Linked DNA regions of Homo sapiens: region 1 is reported to be linked to region 2. Evidence: microRNA targets listed by miRTarBase, many of them from high-throughput screens and not tested one by one. Region 2 holds a microRNA gene; the other region holds the end of a gene's coding sequence. Distances are from middle to middle.

Region 1 (5,067 bases), 120 Mb from region 2:
CCCAAGTAGCTGGGACTACAGGTTTGTGCCATCATGCCCAGCTCTGTCAAATTTTATGCTTCTCATATTAAGCTTTTTTTTTTTTTTAAGTCACATATAAAGCTCCCTGTCTGTGCCTTTCAGATCCCATTTCTTTTTTTCTTTCCCTAGGTAAACACTGTTCTGAATTTGGTGCTTGTATTAGTCCATTCTCACACTGCTAATAAAGACTGGGTGATTTATAAAGAAAAGAGGTTTAATTGACTCACAGTTTTGCATGGCTGGGGAGGCCTCAGAAAACTTAACAATCATGGCAGAAGGAGACGCAAACACATCCTTCTTCACATGGCGGCAGCAGAGAGAATAAGAGCCCAGGAAAGGGGGAAGCCCCTAAACCATCAGATCTCATGAGAACTCACTATCGTGGGAACAGAATGAGGGAAACCAGCTCCATGATTCAATTGTCTCCACGTGGTCCTGCCCTTGACACATGGGGATTATTACAATTCAAGATGAGATTTTGGGTGGGGACACAGCCAACTCATATCAGTGCTTATTATCCACATGCTATTATTCCTGTGTTTATGAATCCATACATAATACTACAGTATTGTTTTGCTCTTTTGTACTTTAAATGGTATATCATACATACTATTCTGTACCTTCCCCCTTTTTGGTGGTTGTTTATACAAGTAACTTGAGTCATTATACAGTTATATTCCATTATGCCAAAGTTTATCCATTATCCCGTGGATGGACTTCTGGTGCTTTCTGTTTTGCTATATAAACAATACTGTGTACATTTTTGTACATCTCCTTTACACATGAAATAGTTTCTGACATGTTCATGTGCATACAAATCATTTGGTGGGTCTTGTTAAAATACAGACTGATTCAGTAAGTTTGGGGTGGGACTGCAAATTGTACTCATATGAGGAAAAATGGGGGAAACATATAAAGGTAATGCTATTGTAGAAAATACAAAAAAAAAAGACAAAGTGTCCTCATAATCTAGTATGTGGTATAGCAGAGTGGTTTAAAGCATGGCCCCTTTAAATTCAGTGTTTGAATTACAACTCAACTACTTGGAAGTTGAGTGACTTTGGATAGGTCATTTAATGTCTCCAAATCTTGCTCTTCTCATTTTGAAAATGAGAATTGTTATAATAGCACCTAGGTTATATGGTTGTGATGAGGCAATTTGCTAATATACTAGATACAGAATGCTTAGGACATTGTCTGGCACATAGCAAAAACTCACTAAAATTTGAGCTATTATTGTTAAGTTTTAGCCTCCCCCCCATTAATATATTCTTTCTCTCCAAATTGGATCACACTGTACATGCTCTTTTTATAGCAAACTCTCGTCCACTGATTGCAGAATGAAAACATTTCCAAGTTATTCTCTATTAAGTCATTTAGAAAGGCTGTTTAGTATTCCAATGTATGTATCTACCACAATTAAATCATTGTTTGATGCTTCAAGTTGAATTATTTTACTCATGAATAATACTGCATAGCTAAATCATTTTATACCTTTTAGTTTTAATATCAGCTCACTTTCTCTCCCCTTTTAATCAGCTCTCAGCTGTTACCATTCTCCCCTTCTAATCTGTGATCAGATAATCAATCGAGTTAAATCAGTTTATTTGCTATACCTTATCTACAATTCTGTCACTTGCTCTAGACCTTAGGTGAAAAGGACAGCTATTACAGCAGCTGTGAAGGCAGGCTATTTTTGCCTATTTTAGGGTATGCCTCTTAGTTAGTCCAGCTCTGCTAGTCTCACTGGATATGAGATTAGGAGATACCATCCAGAAGATGCTGGCACATCCTTTTGTTGTGGGTGCCTTTTCCCTTCTACTACCTCCCTCTTGGGGTCTGAACACTCAACCTACCTTTATACCCAGCTGCTGCCACCTCATTGTTACCTGTTTCTGATTTTCTGAAGCCGCGATGCCCCTTAGCCTAGGTCTGGGAGTTACCAGTTTTCTTGACTTCTGACACCAGTATGTATGCATGGTGCTAGTTTCTACTTTGTGGGCCTCTCTGCTTTAGTTTCTCAAAATTTTTTAGTAGCCTGTAGCACTTATTTGTGCTTTTTAAAAAACTTCGGATCCTGTTAAATTCCCACATTTTTGTCTATATGGGAGCACAGAAAACAGACTTCAACAATTAAAACTCCCAAATCAGGTATTACTAAGTAGCCTAAATCCAGCTGGATAGTCCTGTTTCCCAAACTTGCCTGAAGGACCACAAGGAATACCTGTTGACATATTCCCAAGCCCATCCCAATGGGCAGCTCCTGTAATTTGGATATGTTATCTGGATATATTATTTAACACCCCAGGTGATTCCTATAATCAGGCACAGTTGGAAACAATGGGCTTTTAACTAGGATTTTCTGAGATCTTCCAGGACACTGGGAAGTTCAACTGAGACCTCAGGGAGCTTGTATGCAATTTAGAGGTAGTGTAGGGGTCATCCCGGGGGGGGGGGGGGCGGGGCAGGAAAATTCTAGGATTCAAGTATTAGTTCGAATACTGGAAAGTCTGTAGAGCTTGAGACCAAAGAAGGAATTTATGCTCTTTTTGTTTTAATCTTGCTCCTTCTAAAGGAACTTATGCTCTATTTACCATCTCTACACCAGCATGGTTTCAAATATATATCCCCTGGTTATAGTATAGATTCTGTACCAAACACTGGGGTTCCAGAACTGTCAGATGAGTCATGCAGCTCCTCAAAAAGTGTAATGGAGCCAGGCATGGTGGCTCATGCCTGTAATCCCAGAAATCTGGGAGGCTGAGGCAAGCGGATCATGAGGTCAGGAGATCAAGACCATCCTGGCTAACATGGTGAAACCCCGTCTCTACTAAAAATACAAAAAAATTAGCCGGGCGTGGTGGTGGGCGCCTGTGGTCCCAGCTACTCAGGAGGCTGAGGCAGGAGAATGGCGTGAACCCAGGAGGCGGAGCTTGCAGTGAGCCGAGATCGCGCCACTGCACTCCAGCCTGGGCGACAGAGTGAGACTCCGTCTCAACAACAATAACAACAACAACAACAAGAACAACAACAAAAGTGTAATGGAGAATGCAGGTCTTTTGAGGACTGAATCCTTTGCATACGTTAAAATCATTTGGAGGGCATATCTTTTATTATGTAAGGTTTTATATTCACTTAGAAAAATCAGCTGAATGCCAGAACCGTGTTAGTAACTGCTCTGGCAGTGCTAGCTATGCAATTTTTGAGGACTGAGAAAGCGCAGAAGTCTGATATACCTGCTTCAACTCGTGACAGGCATTTAGTTTCTTGGATCATCCATATGTAAAATATAAATCTTACTCCCTCAATCTGAGGACACAGGGAGATCCAAACATGCACAATAATTCTTTTTTTGTTGGGGGAGGGCAGGAAAGGGGATGGAGTATCGCTCTGTCACCCAGGCTGGAGGGCAGTGGTGTGATCTCAGCTCACTGCAACCTCTGCCTCCCGGGTTCAAGTGATTCTCCTGCCTCAGCCACCTGAGTAGCTGGGATTACAGGTGCCCGCCACCACACCCAGCTTATTTTTTGTATTTTTAGTAGAGATAGGGTTTCACCATGTTGGCCAGGCTGGTCTCGAACTCTCCTGACCTCAAGTGATCTGCCCGCTTCAGCCTCCCAAAGTGCTGGGATTACAGGTGTGAGCTACTGTACCTGGCCATGCCTGAGAAGATCTAGAAACAGAAACTGGTGAATCCTGACCCCACTACACACATTATTTATTCACATGAGATCACAATTTGTTTCTCTTACAACTCATCCATTTGACAGACTAATGTGATGAATAAATAGAATTCTATAAAAGTGAGGCCAAAATAAAAAGCAGCCTAAGATTGTTGAAGAAAACTCAAATGGTGGTCCACGAGACCGCCAAAGTTGAGAGGGAACCAAACTTATCGGGGGGGAAATGCCCCTATGGTTCTAAAACTAAAAGCTTGTCACTCTTTACAAACTGATTTATCTCTTTGAGAGAATCCTGAACATGAAGTCATGCTACTAATGTTTACTCTAAAAGTAGGTTAAATATTTGAGCATGTTCCCCCTAATAATTACAGAAATTATCTCCTTCCTAAAAAAAAAAGTTTAAAACTTTAAATTGTGAGACAGTAAAGTGGTATGGCATGAGAAAAGTACTTTATTCGTGCATAATTTTTCAGTTCCATTCAAAATTACAGTACAAAAAAATTCCCTTGCTTGCAGAGTTTTTGTTACTTTTTACTTAAATATTTAGAGTTAAGAAAAAAATCAAATTTAAAATCACTATTGATGGAAGCTTATATTCCTTATGAATATATACATGTATGCATATATACATCTCTGTATGAATCACTCAAAGCAATTTTAAACATCATTCTTTTTTGTATTTAAAATTGCCCTTTTAAACATTTAGAAGTTCCAGAGGTGGAGGCTTTAATGGAATTTTTCCCAGAGTAAATTTCTTGGATTGAAATTGTTCCAGTTCTTCTACTGTTAGTTTATCTCTGGGTGTGAATAACACATTATCTGTTGCAATGATGCTGCTTGAGGCTGACAGAGAAGTGGATATGCTGCTATTTCCAAAAGTGTCACTGGATGGCTTAGAAAAAGCAGTGTGAGAATGTGAGCCCGGACTACCAAAACCAGCCACAGAACTGCCACCTCCAAAGGCTGGGGCCACTGGAGCTCTGACAGGACCTGTTGCCAAGGAAGCTGGAAGTCCTGAAAATCCAGGTGATCCAAAACTGGAAGCTGCAGGGCTTTTGAATGAAAATGATGCAGCCGATGTGACTTCAGGCTTCCCAAATCCAAAAGCTGGAGCAGAAGTAGAGATACCTGAACTGGTAGAGGCTGCAGCTCCAAATGCTGGGGAACTCCCAAAACCAGCAGGGCTTCCAGAAGAGGCAGCAGCAAATCCAGAGTTTGTTTTAAAACTAAAGTTCTGAGCATTATCACTGCTGCTGTTATTGACTGGAAAGCCTACAAACAACAACAACAACAAAAAAAACAACAAAAATCTATTACGGTCAGAAAAATGTCACAATTATTTCCTCCCCCTATCTTTTTTTCT
Region 2 (5,074 bases):
TCTGATTTAAAAATAGGTTCAGCTGCCTAACAATTACACATACTCTATTTTGCACGCGCACATTACTTAAGGAGACATTTAGAGGGTAGATAGCTTTTATTCCTATGAGTTATCTTGAAATCATCTTCTTAACTATCTTTTTTTCCCCAAAGGGGCCATATTTTGAAGGATTTGTGATGAGACTTTTGGTCTGTGAAGCCCAAGACACAATCTCCAACATGCACAGGAAATCCAGTATCAAATTTCTAACATGTCTTCAGAGACAGGCCCAGGGCTGGCTTGAGCGTGTCAGAGAGGTGTGCACTGCGTACTACCCATCATACATGGCCACACATGCCTGTGGCTGTGAGAAATACTGGTGGTGACAAAGACAATGAGATGCCAGAGAAAAAGATCAGTGGGGTTTGCAAAAGTGATTAAGATGTCGTCCTAGGTATAATTAAAGACTTAATAAGGTTGAAGGAAAGAGAGGACATTGCACATACCGAGGCCCCTGAGAGATCTGCCTGGCAACCCAGAAAGGGACATATGGGGGAAAACGCCTTAGTGTAACCAGGTCAGAATTTTCATTCTGGGCAGAACTGGAATTTGAATAATAATACTGAGTCATATAGCGCATACAGCTATGACATTTCATTTATTTCTCTATATAATGCAATAAAGTAGATGGATTAACCGTGACGTTTACAGATGGAGCAGGGGAGAATGAAGAGGCGTCAGTTTGGGCATCAGGCTGGATCTTCACACTCTGACCTCACTCTGCTCTATCCTGCCCAGTGTTGCTTCACCTGATATCAGGGGTGCAAGGCAACCAGATCTGACACCAGTTTCAGTTTAGATCCTGCCTTTACCTGGGTGTGACCCGGGTCCATCTCTTCAGCTCGGCCTCTGCTTTCTCTTCATAAACTTTTGGGGTTAGTCCTCGGATGATCTCTAAAACATGGCCCAGGTGCTCCTTGCCAGTAGAGTGTAGCCGGATTTGGAGGGACTGGACACTCAGTGTGAACAAGACGAAGGCCTCAGGAGGCAGTAAAAGCTGACAAGAGGAGAGAAAATGAAGCGCCTACGGGTGCATACTGGACTAGCGGGCGAAAGGCCATGACTCCTTAGTTTGGAGAAAGAACTGGGGCCGAGATTGGGGAAGTTTCCCAGTGCAATTAAAAAAAAAAAAAAAAAGAACTAGAAGAATTACCCAGGTCTGGCTTCTTTCGTGTAGCCTGGGGCTGAGTCGCAGGCTGAGAAATCCAGTCTGGCCAGTAGGGGGCTCCACCAAGCGCAGTCTCAGAATGCCCAAGAGCTCCACCGTCGCCCGGGGTCTCCACCAAGCGCAGTCTCAGAATGCCCAAGAGCCCCACCGTCGCCCGGGGTCTCCAAGAGGAGTGGGTCGTGGTGGGCGTTGAAGGGCCGTAAAAGACGAGCAGCCCGCGTCCGCGTCCGTCCTCCCGGGTCTCCAGTCCGCAGGCGGCCGCCGCCTCGGCCCCGCCCTCCCACCTCCATTCCCGGCCCCGCGGACCCGAACGGTCCCTCTCGCAACCGATCTGCTGGCTGGGGCGCTGGGGATGCGAATTCCTAGAAGCCTTAAGAGGCTGCCCAGCGTTGGAAGTTCGTATCCCCAAGAATGCTGGAGGTTCCGGCTCACACACCCCCTCCGGGCACAGAGTCAGCTGGGGGGTGCTGGGAGGGAGAACGCCCCGCTCCTCACCCCCCATCCCCGTGCACCCTGGAGCCCAGCTCCATACGTTCGGCCACCCCAGGCGGACTCGGGGTGGCCGGGTAGCGGGTGGTGGCAGGAGGGGACCGGGTAACGGCAGGCCCGAGAGGAGGTCGCTGGGCCGGGCCGGAGGCGCACAGGGGCTGCGTGGCTACCTCGGCGGCACCCGCCCCACCTCCGCCGGCTAAGCCCGGAGGGGGACGGTGAGTCAGATCTCGGGCACCCGCGGGTCGGGCGGGGAGGGGGAGGCAGGTCAGGAAATGACATCAGAGGCCTGTGCTCAGGGAGTGGGGGTCTGAGCCGGGCTGGGGCGGCGGGGGCGGCAGTGAGTGGGGTGGGGGCGAGCGGACCTCGGCGGAGCCTCCGGCCTGAGGCAGGATCAGGGCCCCTTCCTGGGGGAGTTTCCTGCCTGGTCCGCCCTTCCCCGCTCTCCCCGCCCCCTCTCCGGGCCGCTCCTTGTATGGTCTGGGCGCCGCTCTCTCCCCGCCCCCTCTCTTCTCCCTCCCTCCTCCTTCCGTGTGTCCCTCCCCGCCCGGCTGGAGGCTGCTCCGGACCGGGACGCAGAGTCTGCGGACCCGGCGCCGAGGCGGCCACCCGAGACGCGGCGCGCACGCTCCGGCCTGCGGTGAGGCGCGGGGAGCGGCAGGGCGGCCCCACGGGGAGGGGGCGCGGGGCGCCGGGAGGGGGCGAGTGGGGGTCACCAAGGGGAGCTGGGACCGCCTGGGGCTCCTGAGCCCGGCTCCGCGCTGCGTAACCCGGCGACCCACCCCAGCAGCCCGGCCCGGCCATGGCGGCCCCCCGCCCGTCTCCCGCGATCTCCGTTTCGGTCTCGGCTCCGGCTTTTTACGCCCCGCAGAAGAAGTTCGGCCCTGTGGTGGCCCCAAAGCCCAAAGTGAATCCCTTCCGGCCCGGGGACAGCGAGCCTCCCCCGGCACCCGGGGCCCAGCGCGCACAGATGGGCCGGGTGGGCGAGATTCCCCCGCCGCCCCCGGAAGGTATGCGGCGGGGCTTGGGGAATGTACCCCGGCAGGAGCCGGGGTGGGGGGCAGTCGTTTCGGGAATTTGGGGATGTCTGGAAAGGTTGTTGCCGAGGGGGCTGGGCGCAGCCACCCTGTCCCGAGCAGATGTTCTTACCTCATCGTGGAGCTCGTGGCTGGGAGCCAGGGCTCCTGGGACCGTTCCAAGTCCCCCGCCTGGGAGTGGGAGTCGGGAATGTGGGGCACGAATCTTCCCCTCCGGGTCCGTTTTCCGAAGTGTAACGGGAGCTGCACCACTCCTCGGCAGTGCGCCCGGCCTTTCCTGACCTGGTACTCCCAGGGCGCCCTGCGCCCCTCCTTTGCTTCCCCACACGCTCTGGGACCCCTGAGAGAGTTCTTGGGTTAGGGGTTAGAGCGGTTAACTGAGGGGAGCTTGGGTGAGGGGTAGAGGGACCCCGGCCGACGTCTTTCTCCTTCCTACCCCAGACTTTCCCCTGCCTCCACCTCCCCTTGCTGGGGATGGCGACGATGCAGAGGGTGCTCTGGGAGGTGCCTTCCCGCCGCCCCCTCCCCCGATCGAGGAATCATTTCCCCCTGCGCCTCTGGAGGAGGAGATCTTCCCTTCCCCGCCGCCTCCTCCGGAGGAGGAGGGAGGGCCTGAGGCCCCCATACCGCCCCCACCACAGGTACGGAGGCCTGGGAGGGGCGGCTGCACTGGACACCCCCAAGGAGAGGAGAAGAGGGCCCTTTCTTCTTACCTCCCCTGCACCTCTGCCTTGGGGGTGGGGGGATAGAGGCATGGAATAGGTGCTCTGACCTCTGACCCTCTAGCCCAGGGAGAAGGTGAGCAGTATTGATTTGGAGATCGACTCTCTGTCCTCACTGCTGGATGACATGACCAAGAATGATCCTTTCAAAGCCCGGGTAAGGGACCGGAGAGTAGGAAAAGCAGGGCTCAGGGCCAGAGAGACTGGGCATAGAACTAAGGAGGATGGTGTCCTCCTGACTGCATCTCTCTTCCCTCTCCCACCCCTTGCAGGTGTCATCTGGATATGTGCCCCCACCAGTGGCCACTCCATTCAGTTCCAAGTCCAGTACCAAGCCTGCAGCCGGGGGCACAGCACCCCTGCCTCCTTGGAAGTCCCCTTCCAGCTCCCAGCCTCTGCCCCAGGTTCCGGCTCCGGCTCAGAGCCAGACACAGTTCCATGTTCAGCCCCAGCCCCAGCCCAAGCCTCAGGTCCAACTCCATGTCCAGTCCCAGACCCAGCCTGTGTCTTTGGCTAACACCCAGCCCCGAGGGCCCCCAGCCTCATCTCCGGCTCCAGCCCCTAAGTTTTCTCCAGTGACTCCTAAGTTTACTCCTGTGGCTTCCAAGTTCAGTCCTGGAGCCCCAGGTGGATCTGGGTCACAACCAAATCAAAAATTGGGGCACCCCGAAGCTCTTTCTGCTGGCACAGGCTCCCCTCAACCTCCCAGCTTCACCTATGCCCAGCAGAGGGAGAAGCCCCGAGTGCAGGAGAAGCAGCACCCCGTGCCCCCACCGGCTCAGAACCAAAACCAGGTGAGGGATGGTGATAGGACAAGGCTTGGTACCAGGGCACTGGGGCGGGGCTGGGTCAGGAGCCAGAGCATAAGCATAAGGTGATTGGAGAGTCAGGGTGGACACGGGGGTTGCGGGGTGGCGGGATAGGAATTTTCATCCTCTGGGGTTAGCCTGGTGGAACAATGGTAGGAAAATGCTCCTCTGGAGGAGAGGCCTGGCTGGGTGTGGGGCTGGGTGGGGCCTGGCTGGGACGGCGCAGAGAGCATGGGCTCTGAATTAGGAGGATCTGGTGGACCTTTCCTTGTGCCTTTACCCCAGAAAGTTAAAGGGAGGGATGAGATCACCAGTTCCACCTTGGTTTTTCCCATTCTTGGGTCTTGAGTTAATCTCCCTGCTCCTCTGAGCACTCTTTCTGCCTGAGGGCTTGGAGGTAAGAGACAGCCCCAGTAAACACTGGTTGAGCCAGCATCCACCACGTGCCAGGCACTGTGCTCTGTGCCCAGGAGGGTAGGACATGGGAGGGAAGAGATCTCTGCAAGAAGCTCAGCCTTCAGGTGTCAGATGGACCTGGAATGGAATTCTTGGCTCAGCTTCTCCCAAGTCCTTAGACTGGGCAAGTTAGGTGAACCCTGAGCCTCAGTTTCTCAATCTTTAACATTCTCTACTCCATACAGTGGTTGTGAAGATTGGGTGAGCTAATACCTAGAGAGTGTTGGGTTCTGTATCTAGTACAGGAATGCTCAAAATAGAAAAGCTGTAATTACAAAATGGTTCTTGCCTTCTAGTTCAGGAAATAAGATCGTCCAATTTCTGGTGACGAAGATGACCCTGATGGTCATCTAG

Evidence for each region. The annotated mature microRNA hsa-miR-6892-3p reads UCCCUCUCCCACCCCUUGCAG and lies in region 2 at 3,707-3,727, shown strand. An mRNA with a match to its seed (bases 2 to 7 or 8) in the 3' UTR can be bound and repressed. Matches are read on the target gene's strand: a 7mer-m8 pairs with bases 2 to 8, a 7mer-A1 pairs with bases 2 to 7 and ends in A, and an 8mer does both.
Region 1: miRTarBase lists NUP42 as a target of hsa-miR-6892-3p. The part of its 3' UTR that is shown has no 7-base or 8-base seed match.

What each region holds. Positions count from the first base shown.
Region 1 is chr7:23,200,077-23,205,143 of GRCh38, reverse strand. It overlaps NUP42 (nucleoporin 42), which reads right to left. Exons shown (of 7, transcript NM_007342.3): 7 at 4,138-4,976. The coding sequence ends at 4,399. Among named protein-coding and RNA genes, the nearest start is that of NUP42, 21 kb to the right of the region's middle.
Region 2 is chr7:143,379,074-143,384,147 of GRCh38, forward strand. It overlaps MIR6892 (microRNA 6892), which reads left to right and starts at 3,613; the gene lies at 3,613-3,727. It overlaps ZYX (zyxin), which reads left to right and starts at 2,272. Exons shown (of 10, transcript NM_003461.5): 1 at 2,272-2,336; 2 at 2,484-2,706; 3 at 3,175-3,374; 4 at 3,520-3,612; 5 at 3,728-4,249. The coding sequence starts at 2,499. FAM131B-AS2 (FAM131B antisense RNA 2) reads right to left here and starts at 1,952. Exons shown (of 2, transcript NR_161353.1): 1 at 1,193-1,952; 2 at 82-1,036. It also overlaps a transcript of FAM131B not described here. RefSeq lists enhancers at 832-911, 1,068-1,968, 1,092-1,181 and silencers at 1,682-2,711, 2,742-2,791.